6 separate regions of the Homo sapiens genome follow, and regions 1, 2, 3, 4 and 5 are each reported to be linked to region 6. Evidence: microRNA targets listed by miRTarBase, many of them from high-throughput screens and not tested one by one. Region 6 holds a microRNA gene; each other region holds the end of a gene's coding sequence.

Region 1 (4,089 bases), not on the chromosome of region 6:
TAATAGATTTTCTTTTAATGCTGGTCATGTACTGATGTGGTATTAAAACAGAAAATAATTTAATAGCAAAACTATACTAATCAGCTTAACATTATTTAATCTGCTTAACTAAGCCCCTCCATGTGTGCAGTGGTGAGAAAAACATCCTGCACTTATTTTTTACTGTTTTTTGTTGTTTGACTACTGAATGTGAAATTTGAATCTGATTACCATAAATTTTCAGAGAAGTCAATATAAAGATTTTATTACTTGTCTTATCAAAGCCCATTGTCTGATGATTAGTAGTTTTATAAGGATTAATTCATAATATGATTAAATTTTGCTTTACCCTCTTTTTTCTCCTTCCCTTTTTTAGGGGCAGCTTCATGACTTCTGGGTACCAGATTCTTAATAGGAGTTGCAGCAGCAAAAATATGAACCAAGAGAAATTCAATAAGAGCCTTTCATAGAGGAGTAGAAAGGATTATTACAGAATCCAATGAATGCCAAGAAAATGTACAGCAAATGTGCCACTTGAATATCTAGTATGAAGCTGGTAATGAAGAAATTGCCATTTCTGAAGCAGATATGAAATATGATCTGCTTAATTGTTAAGGCAACTGACCTTTCAAAAGTGCAGAGTCTTATTAAAAGAGGGGAGGGGTAGAAGCAGAATAATAGTCATATGTCTAACCTGCCCCAGTTAACTCCTCTTGTTAAATTATAAGCCAGTTATCTTTTTTAGATAGTATTTTTGTCACTTGGATAATCACAGGAAATATATAAGAAAAGAGCTTGGACTAACTTGAGAAGTTGGACATGGAAAGCAAGACCAAGTTCCAGTTGGGTTTAATTTTCCCTCTTGGTTATTTTCGGACACAAAGGGAATGCTTAAAACTGAGTTTAGTAATAAAAAGCATAAATCTCTTCTGTAACTTTTATAAACCACAGGGAGGTTTCAATCCATGCATTTTCCTTCATTACTCAAGATTATAAATCTGTTTTTAAAATACATCTAAACAAACAGTTGAGAAACAAAAGTTTGGCATGTTGTCAGATCCCCTTAAGAGGAAGAGGTTAAGCTGTAAAGTAGTGGCCCTGTTTTGATGCCAGAACATTCATATGCTGTTTGTTCTGGATTTCTTTTAAATGCATGTATTTTAAATACTGGTTAAATCTTAGAATCTTGGCTATATCTTAGAATTCTGGCTCTTGGTAACCATATTACAGAAGTCTATATTGTAAAAGCCTAAAGATCTGGACAAGTTTCCAACAACCTTGTTTCCATGAGTATATAATTTTGGCAGACACCTGAATTCTTTGGGACACTGTGTCTGTGTATGTGTGTGTGTGTGTGTGTGTGTGTGTGCGCTTGTATCTTGAAGTTGTTGCACTTCAAAACCACAGCTGCTGTAAATTCTTAAACACTGGAGAGCCATCCTTTGGTTTAAATGGTAGAGGGTTAGTGGAAGTGCACACGTTGTTTTTAGCCCAGGGGTAGTAACAAACTCTTACTAGCCAACTAGAAAATTATTTTGTTGACGAGATGTCCCTTTTAGGAGGGTTTGTTTCCTGAAAGAATGCCAACTTTTTTTGTTGTTCTTTCAGTATTGGCTTGAGTGACCTGTTCTCCTGAGTGCTCTAGTGTCTCCAGTTGTGGGGGGGAAAGATGATGGAGGGGAACAGAAACTGGACTTGATGTTTGCGGTTTGAGAGGCAAGAAAATAAAATAACTTTCTACCTCTAAATTGAGGCTTAGGAGTAAAAAGCATTTTGTCCTAAATTTATCATTTAAAATAGCATCAGTAACTTTTGAGCTCATGTCAATCAAGCATTGGCAGTCAGAGATTTTATAGGGAAGACTAAGTAAATCCAGTTTCCAAGAACCTAAACTGATTGAGGCTCCAAGAGTCAGACCAACAAAAGTTTTATTCTGTGTTGTTTACTGGTAAGAATATTATTATCTTGATACTACCTCTCAAGGGTATTGTTACAAAATGCCACTTATGGTTAAAGAGATAGATACAAAGAGTTCTATTTGACAGAAGCTTGAAACTCTGGCATCTATCTGCCCAACGATGGGGGCTTTCGTTCTGTAATTTAATCCTTTGTAGATACATTATTTGTGTGTAATTTTATACGTGTTCATATTTTTCTCATTTTGCATTGTGTAAAGTGTACAAAATCTCAAAGTATAAAATACTGCTTATATTGCTTGTAATTTACAGTGTGTAAATATTTTCTAATTGTGTACATTGATGGGGGGGACAAGTGGGTTATTCAGGTTTTTTTTTAATGACCCTTTTGTATTGCAGTTTCAACAGATAACTGTCCATCAAATTTAAAACCACTTTGATACATTTTTATTTAACAGTTCCAATAAGAAAAAAATCTCTATTTTTAATTATATTTCTCCTTTAGAAAAAAAATACTTCATGGTCCCTCTAAAATAAATGGCCAGACCTCAGTTTAGGCCCTTGTATTTATGACTCTGGTAGAGGTCTTCAGACTCCAGGTCATAGTCCAGTCAGTATTTGCATTTGGGTTCTCATGAAAACTTTGTGACTCTCTTTTAGCACAAGTAGCCCATGGTTTTTCTTCCAAATCAAGTATTTTACTTCTCCCTTGAGTCCCCATGCTTTGTCTCCCTCCTGCTGCTATTGCCCGGTGAATGGGATGGTAGAGAGGGAGAAATGTTCATTGCACAGAGAATGTCAGGCCACTTTGGGGACTTGGCAAACGAAGCTTGCACTGAGTGGTGGTGTGTTTGGCAATATTACTGTGCCAAAAATCACCTTGTCTAATTTTATGGATATGTATGGCAAACTTATTACCCTTCTTGCAAGCTGCACATTAAGGTACTTGTAAGTGTTTATGCTTTTGTGTGTAACTGTTTGCCTTTTCTAACTGCTTTTCTTGTTACTGAAAATATAATTCTACTAGTTTTATCACATTAAGAGGCTCTCCATGCACAAAATGCATTGATGTAGCCGTAAAGTAACAGCATTTGTACATTTTCTATCTCCTGATGGCAGTGGTGCCTTTGTCACCTTTTGGAAGGTTTGCATTTTGTTTCTGCTTTCAAGCGCAAATAGTAGCTTGCTTTCAGCTTCACAAAAATCTCCTCAAATGTAAAAGATACAAAATGGCGTGTTATCATCCAGGCTTAGTTGGAGTATTTGCATTTTTATTTTTATCAAAACAAATATAATTGGTGGGGACTGGCCAGTAATAATGTGTGGCGTCTTTAAGCCAAGAGTAATTTTTAAATTAAAAATGAAAATTTTAAGAGGTAGCCCATTAAACAAGCTACTGAGTTGGAGAATTAGGGGATGACTGTGGTGGTTTGTCGCTAAGGAGGCAACAGTAGGGTCCAGGCGGCGGGGCACGTAGAGCAGTTAGCATGATCCATGGTTATTCCTTACTCATGAACAGTGTCGGCGCACCTCATTATCTGTGCATTTGTTTTTCCTGGGCAGTCCTGTCAGCCAGTTAATCCACCAGCTCTTAGGAAGTAAATACAGATTTTTTTCTTTCCTTTTTTTTTTTTTTAAAGATTTTATACTACATCTTGTTAAAGTCCTATGAATGTGTGTGTGTGTGTGCTATTAAAACTGCTTTTTCTCAGTTTGAACATGTGTTTGGTAATATTTGTTTGGGAGTTGGGGAGGCTAAGTTATCTGGAATGCCCTGTTCCCTCAGCCCACCCCAGTCCCCTGGCTTTTAAACATTTCTTCTTGCTTTGGATTGTCCAGTTTTTTAGCTTGATGTCTCCTGTTTCTGGAAAACATAAAGCCACCATTGTACACAGTTCACTTTTATATAACCCAGTTAATTGCTGTATACTTTGCAATCAGGAATTCAGTAATCTCATTCTTACCTCATTCACTATGTTCATTCCACCATTCATTCTAACAATTGAGTCTCAACTACATACTAGGCACTCTTTTTAGGATTCAGTAAGGATTTGATGGTGAACAACATAGAGAACTCATGAATCTTACCTCCTGGTATCCAGGTTAAAATACTTTCTGTTCTTGGGCAAAGAGAATTAGAAACAAATACCCTTAACCTGACTCCCTTGTTCTTGAGCCCAGGACCAAGAAAGAA
Region 2 (4,089 bases), not on the chromosome of region 6:
TTAAGTCAAGGCAGGATGACAGTTCAAACTTCTCTCCCAGACTGAATTGCCCACCTCCCAAAACCCCTCCTACAGAAAATTTGGAGTCTTCACTTATTCCCTGGCAGCCCCTACCTAATAGAGTGGTGAATTATCAAACATGCAACAAAGGATATGGAAAGTTTAGCAAAAACGGCAACATTTTGGAATGAATGACCGTAATGTGCGTTCTGCCTGCCACCCTAACTAGCGCACATTTTGCAGGTCCCTTGCTCTCCCTGGAAGCAGTATGGCCAAGAGGAGGAAGGGTATCTCTCGGATTTCAGCTTGGAGGAGGAAGAGTTCAGGCTGCCAGAACTTGACTAGCATTTCTGAATATCCCAAGGCGAGGTCATGTAACTTCCTTGGGAAGCTCTGTCGTGCCCCTACCCCACGCCGCCCCACCACTATAGGCTGCTGGAGTCCTGGAACCACCTGGGTCGGCCGCCCAAATCTTTCCTGGCGAAGGGGAGGGAAGGGGTGTTCTGGTGGAGTGGGAAGGGAGGCTTGGGTAGGATTGTGGGATAAGATCGCCCTGGTGACGAGGAGCGGATCTCGAACGGAACTTAATAAAGGTTGCCTAGATAAAGATATGGTAAATAACGGACGAGGCGGGGCCGCGGTTGCTAAGGGCGCGGGCATCTGGTGGCTGCCATAATGGCTTCTGCTCAGTGCGGGACGCCAACTTCTGTCATGTACCGGCTGCGTCTCTGGTCCCTATGGCCCCTCCTCACGTGACAACTACTGTGACTACTAGTCCAGGAGGCTCAGCCTCTGGAGTGGGTCCAGGGCCCACTCCAGCTGACCTCCGACCCCCTGAGGCCAACTGAGCCCTGGGCTTGGCGCTCCTCCGATCTCCCCCCGGAACCTCCCTATGCGTTTATCCACCCCCACCCCCATACAGACCCGGGAGCTTTGATAACCTGAGGTCCTCTACTGCCACCCAGATGTCAGCCTCGCCTCAGGAACCGACTGAGACTTTGGTTCCATTTCTGGACACAGATTCAGCTGGAGAGCTGCCCCTGGGGCCAGAGAAGTTCGCTGTTGCACACCAGGATCTGAATGATAAGCTGACTCACAAGAAAGGCTCCCAGAGTTGGTTCCAATGCTAGACTGGGATCAGAACCAGACGGTAGCTCGGCCTCTTTGCCTCAAAAGTAAGGTTCAAACTGTAAGTCTAGATCAGGCTGCAGATCATTAGGCATATGAAATACTTGTTCCACCTCTAGATAGTCAGAATTCAAAAGCAATGAAGATTAGTGTTTCACCCAAAAACCTGAAGAAGAAAGATCTACCTAAGCATCGGAGGCTTGCTAAGGTTGTTGTTGGAACTCCACACCGATTTGTATCAAAACCTCAGTGTCAGAAACAAACTTTACAAGCATTTAGTATTTAGATTCAGGTATGGATATACTGTATCTGGGCAGCCTTCCTCCAGAAGTCCAGGTGAAAGATGAGCCTCCAGGGCCCCATGAGCAAGTTGGACTTTTGCCAATTCTATCTAGAGCCCGAAACTCAAAATCCACAGACCCTCCAAGAGATCCAGTCATCTTCACTCCAGCAAGAAGCCCCAGCACAGCTTCCACAGGTCCCTGAATACGTAGAAACTTCTTCAACCCCGTAGGAGGCCCCAGCTCTTCCTTCTCAGTCCCTTAAGGGGGTCCATTCTTCAACAGAGCAGGAGGCCCCAACACAGCTGCTACCTGCCCTGAAGAGATTGTAGCTCAGTTATGAATACGTTATCAGGTAAATGTTGCATTAAAAAGTTGGAGTGAGGCCAGGTGCAGTGGCTTACACCTGTAGTCCTAGCACTTTGGGAGGCCAAAGAGGGTGGATAACCTGAGATCAGGAGTTCGAGACTATCCTGACCAACATGGTGAAACCCTGTCTCTACTAAAAATACAAAAGTTTGCTGGGTGTAGTGGTGAGCACCTGTAATCCCAGCTACTCAGGAGGCTGAGGAAGGAGAATCGCTTGAACCTGGGAGGTGGAGGTTGCAATGAGCTGAGATTGCACCATTGCACTCCAGCCTGGGCGACAGAGTGAGACTCCATCTCAAACAAACAAAAAAAGTTGGAGTGAAGCTCATCACTCACACTTGCCCAATGTAACAGTCAAACTTGTGGATTTGGAGCTTACAATAAGTCCAAAGCCAGATAAGAAACTTACATCAAGCCGGGAACAGGCCACAACTCAGCCTCCAGAGCACCCTGAGAAGATGGACCCTTCCTCAACCCAATTAGAGGACCCAGCTTAGACACCAGAGTGCCCTGAGGAGATGAAATCTACAACCCAGCACAGGACCCCAGCTGAGCCTCCAGTTCCTCCTATGGAGGCCAGACCTTCTCCAAGTGAGCAGGAACAGCCAGCTCAGCCTTCTGAGTTTCCTGGGGAGGTTGAACCTTCCCAGACCCAGCAGGAGGCCACCGCTCAGCCTCCAAAGTTCTCTATGGAGAGTGCATATCAAACTGCACTGAATTATGAGGTGACAGTTCAAACTCAGGGTGAGGATCAAGCTCATTATACAAATGACAGTTAAACCTGTGGATGTAGAGATTACCATAACTTCAGAGCCTATCAAAGAGACTAAATATTCTGCAGCCCAGCAGGAGGTCCCAACCCAGCCTCCAGAGGGAGTGGAAACTTCTGCAAACCAACAGGATTTAACTGAGGCTCCAAGTCCTGTGGAGGATGAATCTCCCCCGAGTGAGCAAGAACAGACAGCTCAGACTTCTGAGTCTTCAGGGGAGGTTGAATCGTCTCCAGCCCAGCACGAGACCCCAGCTCAGCCTCCAGAACATCATGAAGTAAAAGTTTCACCTCCAGGTCACCATAAAGCTCAGCATTCAGATTTGCCCATTGTCACTGTTAAGCCTCCAGTTATGCAGCTCACCATAGCAACAGAGCCTACTGCAGAGGTGGGAACTTCTCCAATCCACCAGGAGGCTACAGCTTAGCTCTCAGGGGCAGTTAATGATGTGGAACCTTCCATGACCCAGCACGGGGGCCCAACTCTGCCTCCATAGTCATCAGAAGATGACTTTACCAGTTCAACAGGAGACTTCAGTTCAATCTCCAGCTATTAAAGATGAGAACCTCTCTCCAGCCCAGCAGAAGGCTGCTGCTGAGTATCCACAGATGCCTGAGGAGGTTGAGTCTTCTCCAACACAGCAATAGACCCCAGCTCAGCCTTCAGAGATCCCTATTGAAGTTATAGCTAATCTCCAGTGCATCATGAGGTAACAGTTTCTCTAAGTCATGATCAAGTTCAGCCTCCAACATTGCACAATGACACTGTGAAACCTGTGGATCACATGGTAACCATGACTCCAGAGTTCACCTAACAGGTTGAAATTTTAACCAAACACAGGGCCCCAGCTCAGTCCTCAATGTCCCCTTAGCAGTTTCAGCATTTGAAAGACCAGCAAGAAATGATTATTCAGCAGCTAAATACCCCTGAAAATGATGAACTTCCTCCAGTCCCTCAAGAGCCCACAACTCAGTCACCAGCTCAGACTTTGTAAGGTCATTGAATGATGAGATGGTATTTTCACCTCTAGATCTATCTTTAATATTCAGAAATAATTCAACTTTCCCTAATACCACATTTAAAAATATGGATATGGACCTCACCATACCTACAGAAGTCACTATGGAGGTTGAACCTTCCCCAGTCCAGCAGGACAATCCTCCTATTCCCACTGAGTAGGCTGACTTTTCTCCAACCCAGCATGATACCCCTTCCCCACCTCTGGATTCTCCAGAAAAGATTGAATCTCCATCACAGCAAGAGGCCACAGCTCAGACCCCAGATTCCCCTAAAGGGGTGGATTTTCTCCAGTCCAGCAAGAGTCCCCAGCTGAGGCACCAGAGCTCCCTAAGGAGGTTGAACCACTGCAACCCAGCAGGAAGCCTCAGGTCATCCTCCAAAGTCCACTGCAGAGGTCAGTCCACCATAGCTGGAGATACCAGCTCAGCCATCAGCCACCTGAGAAGGTCAAACCATCTTCAGTCCTACAGCAGGCCTCAACTCAGCTTTTAGAGCCACCTGAAGAGGTAGAATGCTCTCCA
Region 3 (4,081 bases), not on the chromosome of region 6:
TAAGAACCTGTTTCTTAAAACATATATATATGTATATTCAAATCTGTTAGCAGAAAGTACTTTAAGCAGACTCTAACATAAATTCCTGGAAGACCAAGCTAAGAAGTCTTATTTTGCTGTGTCCTGATGCATGTTTCTGTCTGCTGAGATTTGACTCGATGCCCCTCGCCGCAGGCTGTGCCTCAGGGCAGAGGTTGGGCGCTCACTCCTGGCCGAGTGCTGCGGGGAGGGGCGGTCTCCACGGAGGATGGATGCGGCTAACCCGCTGCTTGTCTGTCTCTTGGCGCAGTTGCCATCAACCTGATCGTGCAGCACATCCAGGACATTCTGAATGGTGACATCTGCAAATGGCACCGAGGAGGGTCCAATGGGCGGAGCTACAAGCGGACCTTTTCTGAGCCAGGGGACCACCCTGGGATGCTGACCTCTGGCAAACGGTCACATTTGGAGTCCAGCAGCAGACCCCACTGAGGGGCTGCCGAGCCTCAGGGCAGGTCTCCCGCCCGGCATGTGTGTTCAGGGACTGAGCCTGGGGACGCCCACCCACACCCACTGCTTCCTCTCGGCGCACCCCAGGGGAGTGTTAGCAGCGAGGCCTTCCTCACTCAGGAGTGGAAACTCAGATGTGTCACTCAGACTCAACTTGCTGGGACACTGACAGGCGTTCCTGAGGTTTTCAGCCACTTAGGCTCGTTGCGGTTTAAAGATCCCTCTAGGTCACTGAGAAATGCCACAGAATGTGCAGGAAGCCTGGGAGGCTTCTGTGAGGAATGTGAGGCACATTATTGGGGAAATTGAGGAGACAGCCTAGACACTGGCTGGCCTGATGTTTTGTTGACAGTGAACCCACAGTGGGAGAGAGTTTTTTCCAGTCTGATCTGGTTCTTACACACTCACACACATAACTCAAAAGTTTTGTGAACAAGTACTTTCCTTTTTTACATGTTACATGTCCTCATGTTTTCTGTTTTCTGTTTCATAACACAAGGCTGGTTGTGGCCTACAAACCTAATTTCATGACCCAGTGGTTTGCAGTCCAGCGTGGCCTACACGGATATGGGGAGCCACTGAGGGATGTTTTCCCCCCTTGCTTGTGCCTTAAAGGCAGAGAAGCGAGGCGGATGCCCTGGAAGCACCCAGCATCACACCCAGGCTTGTGCGGGGCCAGGCTGGGAGCCCATGCAGTAGGGCAGAAGGCAGCGGAGGCCAGGTCTGTCCCGGCTGGAGAACAGCGTCCACGCAGTCCTGCCTGGGGTCAGGCCCTCACTGACCCTCAGGGGAGCCCCCAAGGTGCTGTCTGTCTAGACAGGCTGTCCCACCCCAGGGTGGCTAGTGGCCATATGCAGGGAATGGTGCTTCTGGCTGTGGCACGCACTGGATCACCCAGGTCCCAGCAGACATGGCCGCCCAAAGTCAGCAAGCCTCCTTTGTGCTATGTGGAGCTCACAGCCTCACATGTGAACACCCGTGTCTGGGTTGCCTGGGGTGATCCTCCCTCCTGCGTGGTGGCTGTCTCTGGAAAGCATCCCTTGCCGCTGCCATGGGCAGCCCCAGCCCCCGTCCGTCCAGGCTCACCCACAGTAGTGATGCAGACGTGACGTGGGGGAAGGGGGCTGAGCCCTGTGGCTGGGTTCTGACAACTGTAACGGTTTTGTCGAGCTTAGGCCCCTTTGGAGGGAGAATCAATAAATAACAAACACCAACTACAAACGCCAGTTGGTTCCTTTTTTAATTACATTTAAAAAAGACAAAGGCATGGAGCTGTATGGATGACACACCTTGACCACTGACGAGGAAGATTTCACTCAGCCACGTCTCAGTGGAGTCTCAGAGGGGAGGGTTTCCACACAGCACGGTGCCAAGGGCCAGTCTTGACGCTGTCATAGACAATGACATGCAAGCCCCAGCCCTGGCTCGTGGTTCAGGTGGCCCTCCAACACTGAGCTGTCCCAGGACGCCTGCCGGGCTCGCTGAGGGCAGGGCCGGGACTTGCTCAGGTTGCTGGGTGTTCATGAAGGAGGATCGGGTCTGCCAGATCAAACTCCACCCTGCAGCAGTTAGCAAGGACCAGGCCCTGGTCTGCTGAGGCTCCACTGCTGGCCCTGGGTTCTCGGCTTTTTGTTGTCAATGACTCCTACGCTGGCCTCTGAAATACTCCCTGTGTCTTAGTTCAGGGGTAAAGACACGGAATATCTTTATTGTCGAGAAAAAATTAACTTTGCACAAAAGGAGGTGCTCATCAGAGAGCTTTTCAATGAGACCCCCATGTGTTCCACTAGAGGCCCTGCTCAGCCCAGCCCGTGTCCTCCCAGCGTGGGGCCCACCCTGCTCATTACGTACATTGACCAAGACCCTTCAACCTCATCCCGACCCCAGCACGGGTGTTCTTTGCCACACTCTTGTTCTAGTGTTTTCGGATCAAGATGTCCCAGCTGTCTTTCCAGCGAAGGGCCTTGAGTTCATGTGGCGAGAGTGACTTGTCCCCGTAGGTGAGTGGGCGCAGCGTGTTGGACACGTGGCACGCGGAGGAGTACCAGGCCACCACCAGGGCGCTGAAGATGCTCCTCTGGAGCTGGGACCTGCAGAGGTCAGAGCAGCGTGGGGGAGGGTGGCTGACCACTGCGGCTTCCCTGCCCGGCACCCTCTTGGCATCTGCTGTCCACACGGTCACCCCCCGAGGCCTGGGGTTCTGCCTTCAGGTTTCTGTGTCTTGTCTCCTGCCACCCATGACCATCTCCCACCTGGATGCACTGAGAGGGGCCCCCTGATGACTCCTCAGGCCTCCACAGTGGCTGGGCCACCTCCACACAGATGCCAGAGGACTGGTCCCAAACCCACGGTCCTCCCTTGTGTGGCTTCCTGAAACCGGGAGGCCCTCGCCCTCTGCTCCAACCTCCAAACACACTCTGGTTTAGAAGCTTTCTTGGGTTCTCTCCACCACACCACACAACCCGACCATAACCAGCTGCCGTTTCTGACACCCCAGGCTCCTGGGCCTTGCTCCCTGCTCCCGAATCCTCCAGGCCACCCACATCTCTTCATCCCCTCCCCGTCTCCCCACCCACTCCGCTTTCATCTCTGTCAGCCGCGACTTCTCCCTCTGGGTTCCTGCAGTGCCTCATCTGGGCATCTCTTCTGAACCTCACCCATTCCCCGGAGGGACCCGGAGGATGTCAGTGTAACGTGAAATGGGTGAGGTTCGCTGCACCCCATGTGTTTGCTGCGCATGGGCTTCCCAGCAGAGGGCTGCTGCCCGGTCCAGCCACTGTCTCCGCAGCCCCCGTACCTGCACAGGTGGTCGCTGATGTGCTGCAGGACCACAGGGAGCAGAAGGATTTGGAAGGTGAGTGCGGGCAGGTAGTGGTAGAGGAAGAGTGTCTTCTCCATCAGGAAGAACGGGAGGTAGTTCACTGCCCAGCCACCGGCACACAGCGCCCCAGCCAGCACCCAGCGCAGCCAGGCATCTATAGGAAAGGGCTCGAGCTACACCGACTCTGCTGCTCCCACAGGCCGGGTCTTCTCTCTCTTTTGCTTTTTTAGAGAGAGGGTTCTTACTATGTTGCCCAGGCTGGTTTTGAACTCCTGGCCTCAGGTGACTCCCTCACTTTGGCCTCCCAAAGTGCTGGGATTACAGGTGTAAGCCACCGCGCCCGGCCTGGCTGCCTGTGTTACCCAGCCATTTCCAGCGCATACGGGCAACATGGGACCAAGAGGGCAATTCCTGCCCAATACGCTGCACTCGACTGGAGACACCTCTAACGCAACATGGGAACTTAACATTTTGTCTCTTGGGAGACAAACATAATTTAAGATTCCACAATACAGAAACAAAGAGGCCGCGTTAAGGGGTAGGTTCCTATGAAGTCGGTTTGTCACTTGAGGCGGTGAATGCTCAGCGCACACCTGTAATCCTAGCACTATGGGAGGCCGAGGCAGGAGGATCGCTTAAGCCCAGGAGTTCAAGAACACCCTGGACAACACAGCAAGACCCCATGTCTATATTAAAAAGAAAGAAAGCCATGTGGGAGAGGTACTAACCCTGAGGGAGGTCATGGACATTTCTTCGCCGTCGGAGCAGGTA
Region 4 (4,089 bases), not on the chromosome of region 6:
GTCTTAAAAACATAAGGCTCCTACCTGAGTTTAACATTCTTCTGTTCAGTGTTCTGACCCTTGTCCCGTCTCTTGACTCAGGGGTGCTGAAAAAGTCCTGGTGGAATGTAGCAGCACCAGTGCAGTCAGCAGCGAAGCATCTTAACTCTACAGTGTTCTGTAATCCATGCTGATGGAGACTCTCCATGGGCCCTGTGTTTATCTGGGGTGATGCTGCTAAAACTGCTAGTACATCATAGAGCTACACAATAGTGTGGTACTACTACATGACAAGACAGAAGAAAACATGAATACTGGCCCTAGTATACACATGGACTTAAATGATAAAGGAGCATCCTCCTTTATTGGGTAAGTAAAGCTAGATAATTGGGTAAAATTATCTAAATATTTGGGAGAAAGTTATTACATGCCAAGATAAATTCCAAGAAAAATAAGGCTATGAAGTATAGACATTAAATCATTAGAAATATATAAACTTGTCATTGGATCCAGAGATCAGTCAGGGCTTTCTAAGCATAAAAGCAAATAGAGGAAATCACAAAAGACTAAACATAAAATGATATACCTTAAAAAGCAAACTAAAATTTTGTAATAGTTTGTAAATGGACACTATATATAGTGAATCCATAAGGCGCTCTTAAAAATTCAGTATGGAAAAGGATCTGGCTTCCCAATAGAAAAATGGCAAAGGATATGAACAACTCACTTAGGAAAAATAATTTACCAAAAAGCTTCTGGGAAAAAAAGCAGGATGCCAATCTAAAGGGTATTCAAATAAGCAGACATTAAATATACAATGAAAAATTTTAAATGGCAAAAATTTGAAAGAAATCTATGCTAGTAAACAGTAAAATCCTTTCTGGAGTTAAAAGCATGTGTTCGTACTCTTTAACCCAATAATTTCACTTAGGCACTTTTCCTAAAAGAAATATCTCCCAAGGATGTATGTGCAAGGATATCACTGGCAGCATCATTTGGGAACAACTTCCAAGGTCAACAAAAGGGACTGTTTTAGAAATTATGGCATACATCAATGCTAGAATATTACACAGCTATTAAAACTCTGCTTTTGAATAATAGAATTTCTATCATCATGGAAAAAGTTGATCGATTATAAAATATTGGCAGTCATTGACTGTTGATGGTGGGATCAGTTGTGATTTAAATTTTTCTGTATTTTTCAAATTTTCATTAATAGGTTTCCTTTTAATAGGGAAGAGGTTATTTACAAAAAGGGGGGCAAAAAGAAATGAACAACCCCCCCTATGGTCAAGGAGACCAGAAAATGGGAGTAATGTGTTCAAAGCCTAAACCATGAGTTCTGTAAAAGCCCTTGGAGTTGCTTTTCCCCCATAAGAAGCTGCTTCTCCAGCAGCTGCCTTGGCAGCTCTGCGCTGGCTGCCTAGAAGGGTGTGGGAGGAAAAATGCACAAACGCACTTATGAATGGAATGTGTGTTTTGCAAGAGGCCAAGTTGGCAGCTTTGGCTTCCAAAAGGTGGAGCATCAGGCTAAAGAACAGAGTGTGCAGACTGAAGTCTCAGAGGCCTTGTAGTGCAGGCCCATCTCTGCAGAGTTCTGGAGTTGGATCCCTGGGGAAACCTCCACCCCTACCCTTTTTCCTAAGAAAAAGATGGCCTTGGCTATTCTTGAGAGCAAGTGGAGTGCTCTTGGTACAGGGAGATGATCCCTAGTAAAATAGTATGTCATTTATTCAGCACTCAATCTTGACTTTTCCTAGTTTAATCCTCATAACCTTATGAAGTACTAATTTCCCCTATTTTAAAGGTGAGGAAACAGGCCCAGAGAGGGAAATTAATTCACACATAGTGCATTACTGTGTTATTTTCCACAAATGTCTCAATAATCAAAATAGTTATTTCCTTATTTTATACAGCTGTGGAAATAGCCTCAAATGAGGTTAAGTGACTTGCCCCAAAATACTCAGGTGTGTGTGGGAGGTGAAGCTCCAACCCAGGCCTCTTCATATCCGAGGCAGACACTTAATTTATCTCTCAGGACTTGAGCCTCAAGAGGTAAACAGCAGCTAAGCTCTCACAGCTTTGGAGCTCAGCTGGGCAGGAAGGAACCCAACAACACTGTCAGTTTCAAGTTGTTCTCAGGGCCTTGCAGCGGAAGTTGGCAATTCACCTAGGGAACTTTCCTCCTGATGAAGGGACTTGAATCAAGTTGCGGTGTCTGATCCCAAGTCAAGCTCTTCAGTTCTGGTTCCACATAGGGCCAGATCTTACAGAAGCTACATTTAAACTTTCATATAGGACCAGATCTTATGAAGCTACATTTATAAGATTAAACACTGCTCCAACTGCCCAACCCTAAGAGTTAATTTTAAGTAGAATTATCTTTCTCTTCTTTTCTTCTCCTGACAGCAGGTGGTAAGAATTATTTTCCAATTATAAAAGCAATATATGTTGAATGTTAAAAAAAATCGAGTCTACAACAGAAAAGCATTTGTTAAAACCTGATTTGTCAATGGCACTAGCCATAGATAAATACTATTAACGTTTTGGCATATAGCCTTGCAGGTTTTGTTAGAAGCCTATGTATAGCTTTGTATATTTTCTCCTACAAAAGTGTACTCAAACTACATGCTATTCTGTATCCCTCCAGACTTCATACAACAAATAATATACAGTACTGTGAATGTATAATCTCACTAATCTGTAATCCTCTCGGATACATACCATTATTATCCCAAGCACAGAAATGTTAAGCAATTTATTCAAGTTCACACAATAATTTAAAAAGCTGGGATTCAAAGTCAAGCATTCTGGATCCAGAGGTCTACTGCCTCTTCTTGAAGATCTCTTTCACCGAAGATTTTATTTACTCTCTCTCACACACACATTAGAACTGGCTACCTAGAACTCCATTGTAATAACCCTCTGATAGCTCCTTCATTACATGTTTTTGTGTAGCTATCCTAGTATCCTAGGATAATGCTGTAGAATTGCAGGGTCTCAGTGTACAGAGCAATTTACGAGGTTTTTGGGTATGATACATACTGTATGCCAGATTCATCTTTTCTGGAGGGCAGTTAATATTTCTAGTAGTTTTGGAATTGGGTGCCTATGCCCCATGTCCTTTCCAACACAGATTGTTATCAGTTTGAGAGTTGATTAAAACGGCTTTTACTGAATTTCAAGTTTCCAGTTCCTAGAGGGAGAGATGGTGTGATGGAGGCACCTACTGGTGAAGGGTGGCACTGCAGTCATGTTCTGAAGGGAAGGAGGATTCCTAAACGTGGAATGGAAGGGGTTTCCAGGGCTGGTTAAAAAAACTAAAAGAATCTTCCACTCCACTGCCTGGTGGACTTGCCAGATTTCTCAGTTCAGCTATCATTGTCCTTCAATTTTTTAAGAGTTGTCAATAAGAAAACAGTTTAAAGAAATTTGCTTCACAGACATTACAACTTTGACAAATTGCATAATCGGCTGGTTTTCTGAGTAATCACTCCTCTTGGTTTCCTTAGCAGTATATACCACGTAATAGGGGTGCTACATGGAATGAGCACCTTGTACCGCACCTATGCACATAAACTCAATGACACAAAGAAACAATCTGTGGACATCCCCATACTATGCTTGAACTTTAGGCATTTATTGAAAACTTATACATGCCATATAAACAAACTAAACTCTTTTAGCTGCTATACCAAGTTTCCATAAAGCTGTCTGCTGGTTGGGGAGGCTACAGCCTGACCACATTCTTTGCCATTGCCTACAAGGGGTAAGAAATGGCACATGGAAACATGGCAGGCCGACTCACGAACACAGGCCTGGGCCAGCGCTTTCTTCTTCCTCTTTTATTCCCATCAGTCCTAGACCAGAGAGTGAACCATGAGTGCTGCAATAAATAAGAAACAAAGGTATGTTTTTATCCATAAGGTTGAATGAATGGTTATAAATGCCTAGTTAGAGGAGATATTTTTCCAAGTATGTGTGTGTGCCATGGGGCAAGGGCAGGAAGGTTTATGGAAAGCTGCCTGCTGAAGATGGTTTAATGGAAAAAGCACTGATGAGTCTCAGAGGTCTAGATTCAAATCCTACCTTTACCAATTAAGAGATATG
Region 5 (4,089 bases), not on the chromosome of region 6:
AAGGAAAACGTAAGGGGTATTTTCAAGCAATCTACAAACAATATGGTTAATAAGCAATAAAAATTATTGCTCATTAGTGACCTGATTAAAATGGTCACTATTTAAAATGATTAAAATGATTAAATCATTTAAAATGATTAAAATGGTGACATTAATAATGAGATTTAGTGGCCAGGCGCAGTGGCTCACACCTGTAATCCCAGCACTTTGGGAGGCCAAGGTGGATCACCTGAGGTCAGTAGTTCGAGACCAGCCTAGCCAACATGGTGAAACCCCATCTCAACTAAAAATACAAAATTAGCCGGGCATAGTGGTGCATGCCTATAGTCCCAGCTACTCGGAAGGCTGAGGCGGGAGAATTGCTTGGATCTGGAAGGTGGAAGTTGCAGTGAGACGAGATCGCGTCATTGCACTCCAGCCCGGGCAACAAGAGCAAAGCTCCATCTCAAAAAAAAAAAAAAAAAAAAAAAGAGAGAGATTTAAATGATTTTTTGCTTATCAGTCTAAAGAGAAAGATTTATCATAATTGGTGTTGATAAGGATGTAGGGAAGCAGATGTTGATAAAAGTGTAAACTGTGCAACCTTCCTAGAGGTCTTAAATGGAGACACGTTTTTACTTAGAGTTCCAACTTCTAGGAGTTCTTGACAGTAACTCTTTTATACACAAAGATTTATCTGTAAGGATACTATTCATTGTTGTTTGTTTGTTTTTTGTTTTTGTTTTTGTTTTTTTGAGACAGAGTCTCACTCTGTCGCCCAGGCTGGAGTGCAGTGGTGCGGACTCGGCTCATTGCAACCTCTCTGCCTCTTGGGTTCAAGCGATTCTCCTGTCTCAGCCTCCCCAGTAGCTGAGATTACAGACATGCACCACCACGCCCAGCTAGTTTTTTGTATTTTTAGTAGAGATGGGGTTTCACATCATGTTGGCCAGGCTGGTCTCGCATTTCTGATCTCAAGTGATCCACCCGCCTCAGCCTCCCAAAGTGCTGGGATTACAGGCATGAGCCACCATGCCCAGCCTATTAATTGTTGTTTGTAACAGCTAAAACCTAGCCACAGCCAAAGTTCAACAGTCAGCAGTTAGCTACGTAAACTCGGCATATTCACACACTGGAATACTATGTAACTAGTAAAAGCCATGAAATAGAAATATTAATGACATCACTGGCCAGGCACGGTGGCTCATCATGCCTGTAATTCAAGCACTTTAGGAGGCCGAGGAAGGTGGATCACTTGAGACCAGGAGTTCAAGATCAGCCTGGTCAACATGGTGAAACCCCATCTCTACAATTTAAAAAAAAAAAGTAATGAGAAATATTAATGACATCAGAAAATGTTCAACTCCATTAAGTGACAAATGCAGGTTATAACACTATATATAGCCTGACACCAATTTTGGTTTTTCTTCTTTTTATAACAAGTACTTTATTTTCTTCTTTGTGCTTTTCTAAATTTCCCAATGTACATGTATTACTTTTATAATAAAAATATGATAAAACTACTAATTAATACAAACCACAAAACTCCTGATTATTGTATTTTCATTTATAATATACAATTTTCCAATCAAATTTACACTTGTATATTCAGTTGAGTAGAAATATCTGGTTAAATACAGGTTTCAGATATATGTGTTCAACACAAAAAGGACACTGAGAAAAATTTATGATCATTTCAAGAGACCATTTAAAGCTAATAAGCACGGTTTGGAAATTTCTCACTGAAAAGCTGGAACTACATACCCCATTTAAGAAAAGACTTGAAGATCTATTATTCTAACCCATTGCTTGTTTTGCACCCTCTTTACAATATATCTAAATAAATTTATTTTCTGAATATTCAAATTTGACTATTTCTGCAATTTAAAGCATCAAAATGACCCTCCAAATAGTAAATATTATAAAACTGCTGATTATTACTTATCATGAGAAATAACTTAATGAAAACCTATTTACAAATTAACAGCCCATCCATCCAAAGATTATATGTATTTCAATATTATAATTTATAAGAACAAGATATCCAATCTGCTCAAAAAGAAAATACAATTAATTTAGCATATGGAAACCACTTGCTTTTGCCAATACAACAAAATATCTGTAAATTATGTAGTGCTCAATAAAGTGAATGTAAGTTTATAATTGAAACTTCATTCACACAAAAAAATGGTCTTTTACTAGCAAAACTGAATATTACAGCTTTTCAACTATATTCTAAATAAAAATAATTAAAAATCAATTCAAAAAATTCAGAATAAGTGCTTTATTTTTTTAAATCTCACAAAAACTGAAACTACCATTTACATCAGTTGTAATAGCAATAAAAATTAGAAATCAATTTGCTATAACTCTTGAAAACATTTATAAAAACAAAATTAAACAAAAAATAAACAAAAAGGTAAAACTAAGTATTCATTTTAAATTAAAGATAATCTGACTCCTTATGACATACCCACTTGCAGATGTATAAATAGCAGATGCATTCAAAACAGTGCAAGATTTAATTAATTTAGGACAATATTCCAATCAATCCCAATGCAGGTTTTAAATTACTCGTGCACGTTTATATAGAATCATAAAAATAAACCTCTAATATGTAATCAGCTTATAGCCAATTCAGAAAACTCCACACCAATACAACAACTGTGGAAATCATGAGATATGACTGGGGGGAGAAAAGCAAAACCTAGCATCAAAAGTGCATATACTCATTGTAACTACAATCTTACTATATATTCCTACTTTTGTTTTAAAAAAAGTTTTCTTTAAACTATATGTCTCAAAGGGATACTAAAGGTATAATTTCATATTCTTTTTTGAATTTAAAAAACATATACGTAATCCTCCTTTGTTTTGGTAAGTTCAAATATGAATTGACAGTGGGGTAATTGGATTGTGGATTCTTTAAGAAAGCTCTAAGAAGAGAATACAACATACTATATCTTCTTTAAGAAGTATGAGCTGAAATGTTAGGCATTCCTTGTATTGTTTTTTAAATATATTTAAGGAATGCTGTTTTTGTAAAACCATGGCTTTGAAAAAGAAATCTGAGATCAAAATACATTACTAGAAGATCTCTATAAAAGGTCACCAAGACTATCCTTGTTTGTGAAATCAGGGAAAACATTTTTAGAATTTATCTTGTTAGAAAAAATGCTACCACTTTTCTTTCTTTTTCTTCTTTCTTATTATCACAATTAAACACCAGAAGATTTTCCCCAAATAAATACTGATGTAAATGTTGACTTCAAGGACAAAGAACTTTCATAAGAGTCTATTTCTCAGGCATTTCACCATTTCTTGAGACCACAGGACACAGGCAGCACTGTTTAATGTGAATTGTCACTGGACTCCGGTGAAATATTCCTTCTGGGAGAGTTTATTGGTACCTGAAGCTCACTGGTAGATGTAGGTTTAGCAGCATTTGGTGGCTTTGTAGAGGAATTAGGTGGAAGTCTATGACGATTACTCTCCTCACCAGAAGTAGAGGAATGTCTTTTTCTTCCAAATTCATCACTAATAGGGGGCTGCAAATGATGAAAGGCAACACCGTTGACAATTTTACTGTTTTTCCTCCCTTCAGAATCTAAGGCTAGACTTTTCCCCAAAAAAGTAAGTTAAATGGACACTTCAGTATAATTTTTTTTTTTTTTTTTTTTTTTGATGGAGTCTCATTCTGTCACCCAGGCTGGAGTGCAGTGGCGCGATCTCGGGTCACTGCAAGCTCCGCCTCCCGGGTTCACGCCATTCTTCCGCCTCACAGATTGTATTAGTATAACAAAAACTTAACAGCAACTTAAGGTACTAAACTTAAATTTCCTTCCTAACTAAATCAGCCTACTAGTATTTGCTCATTCTTTTACTCAACATATGTTTGTGGTTTTTGTTTTTTGTTTTTGAGACGGAGTCTCACTCTGTAGCCCGAGTGTTTTTTTTGTTTGCTTGTTTTTTGTTTTTGTTTTGAGACAGAGTCTCACTCTGTAGCCCAAGCTGATGTGCAGTGGTGCCACATCGGCTCACTGGAATCTTTGCCTTTGGGGTTCAAGCGATTCTCCTGCCTCAGCCTCCCAAGTAGCTGGGAGTAGAGGC
Region 6 (4,089 bases):
TTCGATATCAACCGGAATGAGGCTTATTTAGCGTGTTATGGACATTAAGCAGCATTAAGATTACTAAAGCAACAAAGAAACGACTGCTGTCATCCCACTGTCTTCTGTGTTTTGCCTTTATAAGCAAAAATATTGAAGATTATTAAGACAACTTTTCTTCTGTAACTTACTGGAAGAAGAATGAGGTAAGAGGCTAAATGTTTCACATTTGTTTACTAAATTTAATTCTAGAACAATGTGAAATTTGGAAGGGGAAATTCTATTTTTAGTTTAATCCTAGATTTATGTTTTAAAGCTGACAGAAAACCATTTTGAAGAAATTTTTCTTTATTTAATGAACATAAATTTTTTGAACAAAAGGTTTATTATTGTTAACTGAGAAAAAATTTGAGGTAGCTAAAGTTAACACTCAAATTATATTGGAAATTCCTTGGCTATTTTTACTAAATTTCTCATAATTTCCAGAAGTTAGGGGCTAAGTTTCACTATGTTAACTATAGCATTAATAGCATGAAAGTGATTATAACTGTTTGAAATGATGAAAGAAATTTAACCAACTTCTTTTCCTTCCCAGGTAGCCAGTGTTTCTACATTTTATCTTTTTTATGCTAAAAATTATTTCTTCTGTTTTTATTGACTAGTAACAGATTTCAACCCAAATTCTAATGGCATTATCTCACAGATTCAAAAAATGACCAATGACAGTAAAGTCAGAAATGGAATTATTTCTTGATAAAATACAAATATGATCTAAAATGCAAATGACACTATTAATTCAAATCAAAATAAAACATCAGCGTTTCAAATCTACCAGTCCCTAAACTTATTTAGAACATGAATAAATCGAGACTTTCTTCTGTGAAACAAGTATACTTAGAGATATCGTACAGCTCCCATGATGAGCAAAAGGAATCTCCTTATATGTTTAATGGTGTTATCAAGTGTAACAGCAACTCCATGTGGACTGTGTACCAATTTCCAGTGGAGATGCTGTTACTTTTGATGGTTACCAACTTGCTACAATATAAAGGTATAATAAAGAAAGACAGAAAATTGTGGTCACTTGGACTCTCATTTGATTCCAGCAGAAAAAAAGATTTTCAGCCTGTTTTATAAAATTAACAAATGATTAAGAATTAATATCAATTTTCTTAAATTCAAGTTTTGTAACACCAAAAAGATCCAATAATGGAAGAGGATTAAAGTCATCATTCAGAAATGGTATACAGGAAAATGACCTATGAATTGACAGACAATATAGCTGAGTTTGTCTGTCATTTCTTTAGGCCAATATTCTGTATGACTGTGCTACTTCAATATCAGAAATCGACTAACACCACGCAACCAACGCAATGGCAGGTACACAGAAGATAATCTGTAACACTACCATGTAAATGTATTGAGTAAATAAAACATAAATATACCTAATGAAAACTTGTGTTTTTCTGACAAAGCTCATATTTATTTAACCTAACTTACTGACCAGTCAACCTATGTACCATTTAATTATCAGGATGTATCAATTAAACCAGTTTGCTATATTTACTAATACATACATATGATCCACCTCAGAGTCCAGAGGGCTATTCCACCAAGGAATCCCCACCCACCTCAATCACTTCAGTGAAATTCCCTAGACATCTTGCTCTCTAAATAGTGAAAAGAAGAGTAGCCGGGCACAGTGGCTCACGCCTGTAATCCCAGCACTTTGGGAGGCTGAGGCGGGCGGATCACTTGAGGTCGGGAGTTTGAGACCAGCCTGACCAACATGGAGAAACCCCGTCTCTACTAAAAAATATATATATATAAAATTAGCCGGGCGTGGTGGCACATGCCTCTAATCCCAACTACTCAGGAGGCTGAGGCAGGAGAATCACTTGAACCTGGGAGGCGGAGATTGCAGTGAGCTGAGATCGTGCCACTACACTCCAGCCTAGGAAACAAGAGTGAAACTCCATCTCAAAAAAAAAAAAAAAAAAAAAAAAGAAGAGGAGACAATGACATGGCTTATAAAACTTTCCAAAAAAAAAAAAAACTTTCCAGTGTGAAATTTTAAACAAATGTTTGTGGAAACTCGTCTCAGGTATAATCACTTTAATTCTTTTTCTTTTAAACTAAGTCTGAGGCTGGGCATGGTAGCTCATGCCTGTAATCTCAGCACTCTGGGAGGCAGAGGTGGATGGATCCTTTGTGGCCAGGAGTTCGAGACCAGCCTCGTCAACGTGGCAAGAGCCCATCTCTACTAAAAATACAAGAATTAGCCAAGTCAGTGGCGCGTGCCTGTAGTCCCAGCTACTCAGGAGGCTGAGGAGGGAGAATCACTTGAACCTGGGAGGTGGAGGTTGTAGTGAGCCAAGATCACATCACTGCACTCCAGCCTGGGTGACAGAGTGAGACTGTATCAAAAATAAAATAAAATAATCTGAACTGGACAGAATTTACATTAATTCTTAATGTAAGTATTAAGATATTAGTAGTTTACATCTGACCAAGCTCTGTAAGAACACCACAGCAACAATATTTAGATTATTCCTAAAGTCTTACCTCAGATCCAACTTATAATAATATTGAAATAGCTTTCCAATGACTTTCCAGTCTCTAGCCTCTACTTTCTTTTCCTAAAACATACTCTTACTCCTCAAGTCTACTTAAAAGTTTAAACTTCTTAATAGCATAATTTAGAAAAAATTCCATTCACCAAATTAAAAAAAATTGCTCAAAGAAAATGAAAATCTGGAATGTGTTCCTAAAAGGAAGAATTAACATTCCCCTCTCCACATCTGTGAAAAACAGCAACAACACTCAAAGCCTCCCTAATATTACTAGAAGATAAACTAGCTAGACTATTATCTCATTAAAAACAGGGGCCATGTCAGTCTTGTTCACTGTAGCAACTAGCAGTTCCTAGCACTGACACGTACTAAGTGCTTGACAATGTGTTCTGTTTTGTTTCGTTCTGAAGAGACAGTGTCTTGCTCTGTCATCCAGGCTGGAGTGCATTGGCATGATCATAGCTCACTATAACCTCAAACTCCTGGACTTGAGCGATCCTCTCGCCTTAGCCTCCCAAGTCGCTGGGACTACAGGCCCACACTACCACACCAGCTAATTTTTAAATTTTTCTGTAGAGATGGGGTCTCACTGTAATCTTGAACAGCTGGCTTCAAGCAATCCTGCCGCCTTGGCCTCCCAAAGTGCTGGGATTACAGGCATGAGCCACTGTGCCCACATAACAATGTTTCTTAAGTGAATACATGAATAGCTCATCATCTATGGAATACTGTGCTTTACACCAAGTAGTTTGCATTTATTATTTAGTATTCATAACAGTCTACCTGCAACCATTGCTTTTCCTATTTTATAGAGGAGCCAGAGGCTAAGTAAATTCCTCAGTCTCACACACAGTGAATGGCAAAGCCTGGGTTCAAATTCAGTTGCCATTCTCCAAAGCTCACAGATTTCCAAGCAACTTCTCTTTCGAAAAGCACAAAAGGGAGCTGTTCGGGATAAAAGAATTATTCTAAGACACAATTATGATAGTGGCTGTAAAACTTAACAAATTTACTATAAATCACTTATAATAAATGAATTTTTCTTTTTTAATTTTTTTGAGATAGAGTCTCACTCTGTCACCCAGGCTGGAGTCCAGTGGCACGATCTTGGCTCACTGCAACCTCTGCCTCCCAGGTTCAAGCAGTTCTCTGCCTGAGCCTTCGGAGTAGCTGAGATTACAGGCCCGCGCCACCATGCCTGGCTAATTTTTGTATTTTCGGTAGAGATGGAGTTTCACCATCTTGGCCAGGCTGGTCTTGAACTCCTGACCTCATGATACACCAGCCTCGGCCTCCCAAAGGGCTGGGATTACAGGCGTGAGCCACCGCACCTGGCCATGAATTTTATAGTATGTAAAGTATGCTTTAATAAAGCTTAAGAATGAGGCTGATCTATGTGTAGTGATTTGGAATAAATCATAACACATAAAGTGAAAAAAATCTAGGCACAGAGCAGAAGATAGAGATACTCTCTTTTGTATAAACATATGTATGTGCTGACAGAAGAATTCATTTTTTCTGGAAAGATTCAGAAACA

Evidence for each region. The annotated mature microRNA hsa-miR-215-5p reads AUGACCUAUGAAUUGACAGAC and lies in region 6 at 1,234-1,254, shown strand. An mRNA with a match to its seed (bases 2 to 7 or 8) in the 3' UTR can be bound and repressed. Matches are read on the target gene's strand: a 7mer-m8 pairs with bases 2 to 8, a 7mer-A1 pairs with bases 2 to 7 and ends in A, and an 8mer does both.
Region 1: miRTarBase lists SLF2 as a target of hsa-miR-215-5p. The part of its 3' UTR that is shown has no 7-base or 8-base seed match.
Region 2: the mRNA of RDM1 is a reported target of hsa-miR-215-5p. The part of its 3' UTR that is shown has no 7-base or 8-base seed match.
Region 3: the mRNA of UCK1 is a reported target of hsa-miR-215-5p. Seed matches in the 3' UTR shown: 7mer-m8 at 714-720.
Region 4: miRTarBase lists REXO5 as a target of hsa-miR-215-5p. The part of its 3' UTR that is shown has no 7-base or 8-base seed match.
Region 5: the mRNA of LARP1B is a reported target of hsa-miR-215-5p. The part of its 3' UTR that is shown has no 7-base or 8-base seed match.

The regions. Positions count from the first base shown.
Region 1 is chr10:100,961,522-100,965,610 of GRCh38, forward strand. SLF2 (SMC5/6 complex localization factor 2) reads left to right here. Exons shown (of 20, transcript NM_018121.4): 20 at 356-3,613. The coding sequence ends at 391. Among named protein-coding and RNA genes, the nearest start is that of SEMA4G, 5.9 kb to the right of the region's middle.
Region 2 is chr17:35,914,598-35,918,686 of GRCh38, reverse strand. RDM1 (RAD52 motif containing 1) reads left to right here. Exons shown (of 7, transcript NM_145654.4): 7 at 244-607. The coding sequence ends at 345. It also overlaps the pseudogene LOC100133244 and the pseudogene LOC124903988. Among named protein-coding and RNA genes, the nearest start is that of RDM1, 14 kb to the left of the region's middle.
Region 3 is chr9:131,521,430-131,525,510 of GRCh38, reverse strand. It overlaps UCK1 (uridine-cytidine kinase 1), which reads left to right. Exons shown (of 7, transcript NM_031432.5): 7 at 290-1,710. The coding sequence ends at 471. POMT1 (protein O-mannosyltransferase 1) reads right to left here. Exons shown (of 20, transcript NM_001077365.2): 18 at 4,039-4,081; 19 at 3,287-3,464; 20 at 1,712-2,579. The coding sequence ends at 2,405. Among named protein-coding and RNA genes, the nearest start is that of UCK1, 7.8 kb to the left of the region's middle.
Region 4 is chr16:20,849,175-20,853,263 of GRCh38, reverse strand. It overlaps REXO5 (RNA exonuclease 5), which reads right to left. Exons shown (of 20, transcript NM_030941.3): 20 at 3,599-3,865. The coding sequence ends at 3,784. Among named protein-coding and RNA genes, the nearest start is that of REXO5, 45 kb to the right of the region's middle.
Region 5 is chr4:128,209,294-128,213,382 of GRCh38, reverse strand. LARP1B (La ribonucleoprotein 1B) reads right to left here. Exons shown (of 20, transcript NM_018078.4): 20 at 1,395-3,527. The coding sequence ends at 3,330. Among named protein-coding and RNA genes, the nearest start is that of PGRMC2, 76 kb to the left of the region's middle.
Region 6 is chr1:220,115,081-220,119,169 of GRCh38, reverse strand. It overlaps MIR215 (microRNA 215), which reads left to right and starts at 1,208; the gene lies at 1,208-1,317. All of the region lies in intron 12 of IARS2 (isoleucyl-tRNA synthetase 2, mitochondrial), which reads right to left. MIR194-1 (microRNA 194-1) reads left to right here and starts at 929; the gene lies at 929-1,013. LOC124904515 (a long non-coding RNA gene) reads left to right here and starts at 57. Exons shown (of 2, transcript XR_007066883.1): 1 at 57-185; 2 at 1,287-1,428.